Linked DNA regions of Homo sapiens: region 2 is linked to region 1. A link means that fine-mapping ties the variant in region 1 to the expression of a gene that starts in the linked region. Tissue or cell type: whole blood. Region 1 holds a variant in brackets; the other region holds the start of a gene. All regions are shown on one strand. Distances are between the middles of the regions.

Evidence for each region. PIP is the estimated chance that this variant, and not a neighbour inherited with it, causes the effect.
Region 2: it holds the start of BLMH, and the variant in region 1 is fine-mapped to the expression of BLMH in whole blood (TOPMed, PIP above 0.99).

What each region holds. Positions count from the first base shown.
Region 1 is chr17:30,331,426-30,336,572 of GRCh38, forward strand. TMIGD1 (transmembrane and immunoglobulin domain containing 1) reads right to left here and starts at 2,632. Exons shown (of 7, transcript NM_206832.3): 1 at 2,575-2,632; 2 at 627-733. The coding sequence starts at 708. The variant A/T (reference allele first, on the strand shown) is at 2,044.
Region 2 is chr17:30,289,719-30,294,865 of GRCh38, forward strand. BLMH (bleomycin hydrolase) reads right to left here and starts at 2,226. Exons shown (of 12, transcript NM_000386.4): 1 at 2,089-2,226; 2 at 1,593-1,790. The coding sequence starts at 2,101. LOC124903971 (a long non-coding RNA gene) reads left to right here and starts at 4,972. Exons shown (of 2, transcript XR_007065700.1): 1 at 4,972-5,147. RefSeq lists an enhancer at 1,447-1,506 and silencers at 1,957-2,026, 2,227-2,636.

The DNA.
Region 1 (5,147 bases):
AAATGGTATGTTCAGATAAACAGATGATTATTTGGGGTAACATTAGTAATAAAATGCATTAAAATGTAGGAGGATTCTGGTGGTGGCTCTGGAGAGAATAGAATACTTCACCTTGTCTTGTAATAATAAAACCCTAAAAACAATATTTTTCCATTTGATTTTTTTTTTTTTTTTTTTGAGACGGAGTCTCGCCCTGTCGCCCAGGCTGGAGTACAGTGACGTAATCTCGGCTCACTCACTGCAAGCTCCACCTCCTGGGTTCACGCCATTCTCCTGCCTCAGCCACCCGAGTAGCTGGAACTACAGGCGCCTGCCAGCACACCAGGCTAATTTTTTGTATTTTTAGTAGAGATGGGGTTTCACCGTGTTAGCCAGGATGGTCTCGATCTCCTGACCTCATGATTCACCTGCCTCGGCCTCCCAAAGTGTTGGGATTACAGGCGTGAGCCACCCGCCTGGCCTCCATTTGATTTTTTATTGTTAGTTGACTCCTGTACTGTGAGCCATGCTAACTGTGTAGTCATTCCAATTTGGAATTTAAGGATATATCCAATGCCCATTGATCACTTTTCTTAATCGGAAATTTTTCTTTATCTAAAAAGAGGCCAAAAAGAACTTTAACTTACTTGTCATCTCACGTGGCAGAAATAAAATTACTAAGAGAAGAAATCTTCCCATTTGCATTATGACACTGCTCTTCCATGCCATCTTTAATGAGTTAAACTCAGATCTACTAAGGGAAAAATAGTGCAGTTGGTTTTGTACTTTGGTCTGCAATGAGTTCGTGAACCTTCCTTCTGTCTATTATGCATTTAAAGTGAAGTCCCAGATGAATCATCCCAGCTATAACGGTACTACTTCTAGCTTTTAATTAAACAACCCTGTCTGACTAAGTTCAAAGTACATTTAGTAGTAAGAAATTTTTTTTAAAAGCAACATAAAACCACAGGAAATAGGCTATGACAGATAGAGCAGCGTCAGGGTGCCCTGGGGAAGATGAAACCAGTCTTCCCTAGAGAAACTGATAGAATTTCATTTTAGCAGAATGAAACTTGTCTCATTCTCAGACAGTCCCTACTGAACAAAGTAATTCTTGTTCTGAAAGTTTTTCTTGGGTCATTTTTGTAAAGATGTTCTCTGATAATAGAGAGTTTTTGAGACTACTCCAAATCCCATAGATTCAAATGGTGTGTACGTAGAAAAGCCTCAATTGAAACATGGCCTCTAGTTTAAACCATGTTAATCTTGTCTTTCTCCCACTATTCTCTCTCTCTCTTCCCCTTGACCCAATGGACTAAAAATAATAAATAATAAAGGTGTCCTTTCTCCCTTCTTGCTTTTGCTTCAACTCTCCCTCTCCCTAAGATATTCTCCATTTCCATCTGGGAAAAAAACATATATTCATTACTTCCTTTCAAGAGTACTACTATAAATATAGCGAACCACATACGGAAAACTTTCTGCGCAACAGGGACTGTGCTAAACACTTTACATACATCATTTCAGTCACAATTAAGCCTCCTAACAACCCTCCTGAGGTCGTTTCTATAGATTTAAAGAGACTATGTAATTTGCCTGAGATCCCACAGACAGTAAATGTCAAGGTCGGGATTTGAACCCAGACTCCCAAGACCATGCTCTTAACCACCCTACTCTCAACCACCCTACTACCCAATCTACTGCCTAGATTAATATTCTTTTCCTTTAAGAAGCTGCTGTTAGGCTGGGTGCAGTGGCTCATGCCTGTAATCCCAGCACTTTAGGAGCTGAGGCAGGTGGATTACCTGAGGTCAGGAGTTTGAGACTAGCCTGACCAACATAGTGAAACCCCATCTCTACTAAAAATGCAAAAAAAAAAAAAAAAAATTAGCCAGGCATGGTGGCGAGCGCCTGTAATCCCAGCTACTCGGGAGGCTGAGGCAGGAGAATTGCTTGAACCTGGGAGGTGGAGGTTGCAGTGAGCCAAGATTATGCCACTGCACTCCAGCCTGGGCGACAGAGTGAGGCTCGGTCTCAAAAAATAAAAATAAAAAATAAAAAAAT[A/T]AAAAAAAGCTGCTGTTAATCTTTTCCAGTCCCTGGCCACTGGGAGTTCTCTCCCCTTAACACCAGTATTAATTTACAAGAGCTGAAATATACCTATACCTACTCTACTCCTCCCCTGTCCCAGGCGTGCCCTGACAGGAGTAAGTTTCATTCATGCCAGGCTCACCCTTTCTGGCAGACAAGCCTGCATCAATCTTTTCGTAAGATGCAATTACTACTAATATTGATTCTTTTGTAATTTTAAATATTTGCCAAAAAGATTTCTATCACAGTGTTGTAACAGTGATTACTGCAGAATGTGGTCAATAGTAGAGTTTTCTCAAGCGCTCTGCACTACAAGTACTCAATAAAAACTGAGAGTGCAGGCTTCTTGCCAGACCTCACCCAGCCCTATTAAGGGGACAAATCTATGTCTTCTCTTTCCCTCCACTCCACCGAGACAGCAACTTTTCAAAATGTATTCCCCTCACTTGGCTTGTTTTTAATCTGTATGACTCTCTACTTTCTATATAAGACAGTCTTACCACTTACCTCTTGAGCTCTGAGAAGCTGACTTCCTTGGCCAACTGTTCCTCTGCCTGAAAACCCTAAATGCTTTCCCTGTTACAATCCTTTATAATACTTGAATTTGAACGCTTTATGACAGCAGGGTCAAATAAATAAGATAACTTGGGTTCAAAGTCTGTTTTTCTTTATGGAGTCTTAGAGAAGATAGTAATTGGGAAAGACATCTTCTTAAGATCTAAGTTTCTATGTCTACCTCGGTTACTAGGTGGGGCCGGATATTACTAACAGGGATGTGTTGTTCCAAGAAAGCTTGAACTTGTGCAAAAATCTGTAGCGCATCTCACTGAATATTGTCATATTTAAGTAAGATGGCTGCGTTTTGATCATCTAGCCTGGGGATTGTGAAGGGACGAGTCCAAAGAGAAGTTTGACTTTAACAGAGGTCAAAACATTGGAAGATTCTACACAACTTAAATAATGCTGGAAAAGTCTTAGTTACCACTAGTAACCCAAGCCCAGTGCATAAGCTGTACCAAGCCAGGCATGGCAGGGAGCCGTTTTTTTGTTGTTGTTGTTTGTTTTGTTTTTTGAGGCAGGGTTTCACTCTGTCACCCAGATTGGAATGCAATGGCACAATTGTGGCTGACTGAACCTCTGCTCCCAGCCTCCCAAGGAGCTAGGACTACTGGCGTGAGTCACCATGCCCAGCTAAACTTTGTTAATATATATATTTTTGGTAGAGATGAAATTTCGCCATGTTTCCTAGGCTGGTCTCTAACTCCCGGCCTTAAGCAATCTGCCCACCTTGGCCTAGGGAACAGTTTTATCCTCTTGAGGCTCTCACCTGATTGGGAGATCCTTGCATTACACTATGTTTATGGTATTGTTAACGATGCAAATTTTATCTGCCAAGTACTATTGTTCCCATTTACACAAAAATATAACAGAAGAATATTTATAGTTATCTACACATTTTAACACACTGCTGAAGCACACCAGCAATCTGCCTCTTACTAGCTATGTAACTTTGAAAAGTTATTTAACCTCCATGAGCCTCAGGATCTTCATCAATACAATGGAAATAGTAATAGTACCCTCCCTACGGAGTCACTGTGAGGATTAAATGAAATGAAGCATGTGAATCTGCCGCACAGTAAGCTCTTGGTAAACAGTAGCTCTTATTACTATTATTATTAATATAGGCTGAGCAGGGCATCCTAAATCAACACAACCTCACTATAGCATTGTTCAAGCAAAAATCAGAGCTAAGAGCAGCTCCTGTTGGCTGGGTTGCAAGCACCACCCAAACAGGTTTTGAGTTTGCCTCTCCAGGGATCCAAGATTGTCATTTTAAAATGAATTTAGCAATGGAGTGATGTTTTGGTTCTTGGTGCCTCCAAAATAGACCCTGAGACAGAGCTTTGAGTGCCAATAGTTTATTTAAAGGTGATCTCGGCCGGGCACGGTGAGTGGCTCACTCCCTTAATCCCAGCACTTTGGGAGGCCGAGGAGGGTGGATCATTTGAGGTCAGGAGTTCGAGACCAGCCTGGCCAATGTGATGAAACCCCGTCTCTACTAAAAATAGAAAAATTAGCCAGGCATGGTGGCGGGCGCCTGTAATCCCAGCTACTTGGGAGGCTGAGGTGGAAGAATCCCTTGAGGCTGGGAGGTGGAGGTTGTGTTGAGCCAAGATTGGACCACTGCATTCCAATCTGGGCGAGAGAGTGAGACCCTTCCTCAAAAAAAAAAAAAAAAAAAAGTGATCTCAGGAAGCATAGTAAGGAAGTAAGATAGGGAAGGGAGGAAACTAGTAAAGAATGTGTTAAAGATTACTACCGTGAGCAACTATATCCCTGGAGCTTTGGACAAGTTGTATTCTGTGCAGCATACCTCAGAATCAACTACTGATAGGGAAGGAAGCAACTTCTCTCCATCTCCGGCTGAGGGACACTCTCAAGGTGTTGACTCTCTGGCACTTTCAGCCTGCCCTGTGAGGGCAAAGTGTACTCTCTCAAGCTGGCCAACATGTCCAGGAAAAGATGCTCAGGAAGTCACTGGCTATATGGGAACTCTTTGCAGGTAACTTCTGGGTAGGCCAAGGATGTGTGAGTAGAGCACCACCAGCAACTTCTACAATTGGATATTAGGTGATATTAGGAAATAATGATTAATTATTATTAGTTGTGATCATGGTATTGCAGTTATGTAGAGAATGTTCTAATTCTCAAGGGATGCCTGCTGAAATATTTATGGGTCAAGTGTCATGATAATTGCAACTACCTTTCAAATGATTCAGCAAGAAAAGTAAACACATAAACACACAGCAAATATAGCAAATGTTAACATTTATTCAACTAAATAGGGGTCTATAGATCTTCATTGTACTATTGTTTCAACTTTTCTGTATGACATTTTTGTCATCAGAATGTTGGGGAAATGTATTCAGCAGATATTTATTGAGTATCTACCATGTGCTAAGTATTCTAAGTATTGAGGATGCCAGTTGCAGCCAAGCCAATATGGTGGCTTTGTCATGAATTAGGGAAAATATGGCTTCTCTAGTCACTCTACTGCCATCTGTGGAAAATTGTTATAA
Region 2 (5,147 bases), 42 kb before region 1:
CATTTTTCAGAGTAATGCCTTCTCCAAATTGTACTCTACTTCAAAATAAATTAACTGAGAGCGCCATTAGAAAAGTCTTTTAAGGTCTTAAATACAGGGAAATTATCTCTTTTCTGAGGGAAAATTCTGAGGGAAAAACTTTGACTTGTATTGGGTATAACCTTTTTACTAATATGAAAATATGTTTATAATATATTGGTAAGTGAAAAAGATAGGTAGCTTACATAACAATGTATAAGGTATCAATGCATATTAAACACTATTAAACACACACACACACACAAAACTTGACAAATATACAAGAAAAATATTTACTTGGTATTTACAAATATTCTACATTAAACAAAAATAATTTTGTAACAAGAAGAAAACTCTAGTTAACTATAGTGTTTTATGAAAGTCACTAGTGCCTATTAGTTCGTCTTTACCTTACATTTACCTGTATGTCACCTCTCTTCTATATGCTATATATTTCTAGTAGAGGGGATCTGGATGCACTGGTGATGTGAAAACTGCATGAAAATAAACTACACAACTCACATGCTATTTGGATCTTTTGTATGTAAAAGTGACACTGCAAAATGTGTAAGACCTGACCTGTTCCCTAACGGGTCACTGCAATCTAAACTATGTAGGACCACTGTGACATTACTAACTGGATCATCTGTAGCCTGAGAGCCCACACCACTCCAAGCACTTTCTTCTAAAGCAAAACATTAATTATTGTAAGGTCTTGACTTTTTCCTTAACATTTAAAAAATCAACTTTATTCAGGTATAATGTACATACAATAAAATGTACTCACGTTAAATGTGTGCTTTGTGAGTTCTAACCGACTCTAAACAAGCACTGATGTGCTTCCTGTCCGTATAGATAGACTGGGGGGTCGTTTTTAAGTATAGAAAGACTTTAAAAAATCCGTTTAGTACAATTTTGTTGTGAGAATGTGCTCCTTATTTAGATTGCTGGATATCCAATCTTTCACTATACCTGTTTTTTCTGAGAGTGGTGCTAGAAAGCAGATAGCAAAACGAGACTTCTTGACCAGCAAGGCATGAGAACAGAACTTTTTTCTGTATTACAAACTGATCTACTGGTGGGAACTGAGCCCATCAGCACATTAGCTTCAGTTGTAACCAAGAAGCATATTTAAAAGTAACATCTGATGACATTTTAATGTAATTACATTGTATCTTTTCTATTTCATAGTATAGGGCCTTCAGGGCATTTCTGGGGAGTCCTCCAAAGATATGAACATTTTCACATGTTCTGTTTTGTGACCAAGACCATACATCTCCAAGACACGGGCTACAAACCACACAGCATTGGAACATAATATAGTCAATTACACTCAAACGTATACTCATGGACATGTCACTTTTGTACTCTAACCGCATGTACTAACAAGCCACAGAACAGCAAAACAAACCACATGGGTAATGTTCTTAGACCTGCCTGTACCTGTGCCTCATTCTTTACGAATTTACGACCAGTTCTTTCAGTACGAATTTAAGACCACTCTTAAATAAGACACCAAAATGGGACGCTGTCAGGAAGGTCAAGGAACGTATGGGAGAAGTGGAAGCCCACACCTGAGCTCTTCTGGTTGGTGATTGGCTTGCCCTCCTGGGGCACGGCGTGCTGGAACACATGCTGCGCGCGCTGCACCGTGGCCCGCTTCAGACAGATGTCCAGCAGGTCGTGGGTGGTCCCGACATTCTGGGCAAGTACGAACTGGGGGTCGGAATTCAGTTTCTGTATCAGAGCAGCTACCTTCTCCGAATTCAGTCCTGTTGGGAGACCAAACAGGATTTTAACGCAAAAAGAGGGGGAAAGGGCTGATCTGGGGCTCCCGCGTCCCGAATCTAACTTCGTAAGCGCATCCTGGGGTGCCCGCTGCAGCGGGGAAACCCATAAGCGGCATCCTCCTCCAAGGAGCTGTCTCCCTCCAGGCCGATCCAGCCTGCCCCGAAAGCTCCCTCCCCGCCATCGCCAAGGGTCCCAGCCCCCGGCCTTCCCCGCCGCCGGGCCTCACGGGGACCGCGGAGCTCCTCCAGAGGACCGCGGCGGGGGACGGCGGCACCTCACCCGAGCTGCTCATGGCGCCCACGCTGCCCGGCGGGGTAACGGTAGCTTCCAGGGTCCTTGGGCGAGCGCCGGGATTGCGCTGCGGCTCGCTGCCTAGGGGGCCCGACCTGTCTCTCGCACCCGGAGCGCCGGAAAAAGGAAACCGGCTCGGCGGCGGCGGCGGCGGCGGCGGCGGGGAGGCTGAGGCTGGGAGAAACGGGGTCCGCGGAGGGACAAAACTCCCCCCTCGCGTTGCTGAGTCAGCGCCGTCGGGGCTGGCCCCGCCCGGGGGAGGGCCGACGGGGGCGGCCTAGCTGACGCGCTGGGTCCGCCAGCGCCCGGGGGCTGAGGCCGCGCCTGCCCCCGCGCAGGACCGCACAGATGGTCTGCGCGCCAGGGCGGCGCCGGCGCCTTCTCCCCCTAGGTTCCCGCCTCCGGGCCGCGCGGGCGCCCTCCCGGGATCAGGCCCGCTCCAAGGAGGGAGGCTGACGGGTTCCCTGTGGGCCCAGACCCCCAGTACTCTAGCATCGGGGAATCGTCCCCAGGAAGCCTTGTGAGAAGCCAAAAGGGAGCTCGAGGCGGGAGGGAGGAGCTGAGAGGTCCCATAATTAAGCGTCGGGCTTAGGACGGGTCGATATGTCACAAGGAATGCACCCGAAGGCTCTTCCTATAGGCTTCGTTTGCTGACCAATCACTGCATTCTCAATGGCAACTTGTTGCTTGGATTCTCATCAGAAGCAAATAATTGTCTTTGAGGGGGAATGGGAACCAAGCTCTTCCCCACCCACTCCAAAGCTACTACCAGAGTTCTACAAATAGACATCTGCTCATTTCAAGAACACTACCCATCTGGTCTTCACGGAGTCCACGAGTGGCTCCTGTATAGTCCAGCATGTCCCGTTGGGTTTAACTCAGGAGGATGACAGAGGCTAGCCGTATGCATCAATATTGTTTCGCCGAGTTCTCTACAAAACTAACTGATGCTCCCCCTCTAGGCTTTCAAGATAACTCAACAGTTTCCCAAAGTTTTGAGATTGTAAAAACCTTGTTTTTGTTGATTCCGTGTTTCATGCCCTGAAATCTCAGCCCTTAGTAAGATGCTGGGATAGAACCCACAGAGAGTAAAACAAAAACACTGAAACCCTGTATCTGCTATTCAAAACGATGAGGTTGAGTGTGTGTGTGTGTAACCTAGAATCTAGGTCTTCTTAGATTGAAAATCATCGCAGTTCTAAGGAACTCTGATATCTGGAAAAATCCATACTCAGGCACCAATCAGTCATTTGAGAAAGCACGGTTTCTATGTCCCTAGAGAGACTCGGCTAAAAATTGGGGCTATAACATAGCAACTATCTTAAGTGGGCCCATCAACCATCCTATTCTGAGGTTCTTTCAATATCTGAAAAAGAAGAGGCTGAAAATTATACAGAAAGAAATCACTGGTCCTTTCACAAAATGATGTTCAAGCATCCTGCCCAATTCAAGTCATAAATTTTTATTCAGTATCTAACATGTACTAGGCACTGGACAAACTGCTGATGACATAGAGACGAACAAAGCTTAATCTTGCCGTTAAGAAACTCAATGTAGTAGGAAAGAGATGCAAAACAACTTTTAGACTATCTGTAGTAGCATACCAATAGTGCTGTAGACTGTAGAAGCAATGAGGAGAGCACTGTCAATTAGGGCCAAAGGGTGCCTGAAAATAGAAGTGACAAGAGAGCATGATCTTGAAGAGTGGATGAGATTTTTACAAGTCAAAGAACAGGAGAAGGGCATTCAAGGCACCAGCGAAGGCGCAGTGAATAAAATCATGTTCAAGAAAGGGTGCATCATAATCGGATGTGGCTAAGAGCAAGGCATGTTTTGGGAGCAGAGGCAAGGTGTAGGACTGGAAAAGTTTTGTAGGTTTGGGCCAAGATATAAAGGGTTTTATGTTCAATGCCTGAGCATCTGGACTTTATCTTATGGTTAATTAGAAGACAAAATGGGTTTTGAAACAAAGGAAAAATATGCTCAAGTCTGTGTAAAAAAAGAAACCTGGTGGCAGTGGGGAGAGTAATTTGGAGGGGAGGGGCTCTGGAGATAGGGAAACTGGTTAGAAGGTTCTTCCAGTAGTGAACTTGGGAGAGGACAAAAGCCTTACATTGCGGAAAGGGAAGAGGCATTGATAATCTTGAAGTTTTCAGCGGAATAAGAAGATGGAAGGTGGTGTCATTAACCAAGAGAGGGCATACAGAAAAATAGGCATATTTGCATATTTGCAAGTGTGCAGATCTGAACTGAGTTTGGGCCATAGCAAAATTAGGATGCCCCACAGGACACCCAGGAAGAGAAGTTCAGGACGTAGATGAAAAGATGTCTAGAGATTAGATGAGACACATAGGTTCGAGGTGGAACAATGAAAGTCAGCAGGGTTACAGAGGGAAAGAGGATAGAGCAATAAAGAGATGAAGACCACAGATAGTGCCCTGGGCTGCAATGTGCAGTTGCACAGGGTGTTCATGGCACAAGGGCACCAGGCTGAGTGTGGTGAGTAGGGACTAAAATGCAGTCCAGGCTCTGCTTGCCAAGCCATGCACCCTGGCCCAGGCTGTGCACAGAGTATGATGTACCTTTCACTACTTTTTTTTTTTTTTTGAGATGAGTCTCACTCTGTCACCCAGGCTGGGGTGCAGTGGCATAATCTCGGCTCACTGCAACCTCCACCTCCTGGGTTCAAGCAATTTGCCTGCCTCAGCATCCTGAGTAGCTGGGATTACAGGCACGCACCACCATACCCGGCTAATTTTTGTATTTTTAGGAGAGACGGGGTTTCACCATGTTGGCCAGGCCGGTCTTGAACCCCTGACCTCGTGATCTGCCCACCTCGGCCTCCCAAAGTGCTGGAATTAAAGGCATGAGCCACCACGCCTGGCCCCTTTCACAACTTCTTATAAGGATGCCATATGGGAGTAGTATTAGCTCTGAAAATGATAATGTTTAAAGTATGGGTGAAGACAGAGGAGCCAGCAGAAATAGAAAGATCAGTCAGCGAAGTAGGAGACCCGGGGAGTTATGTCCTGGAATCCCAGGAAGGC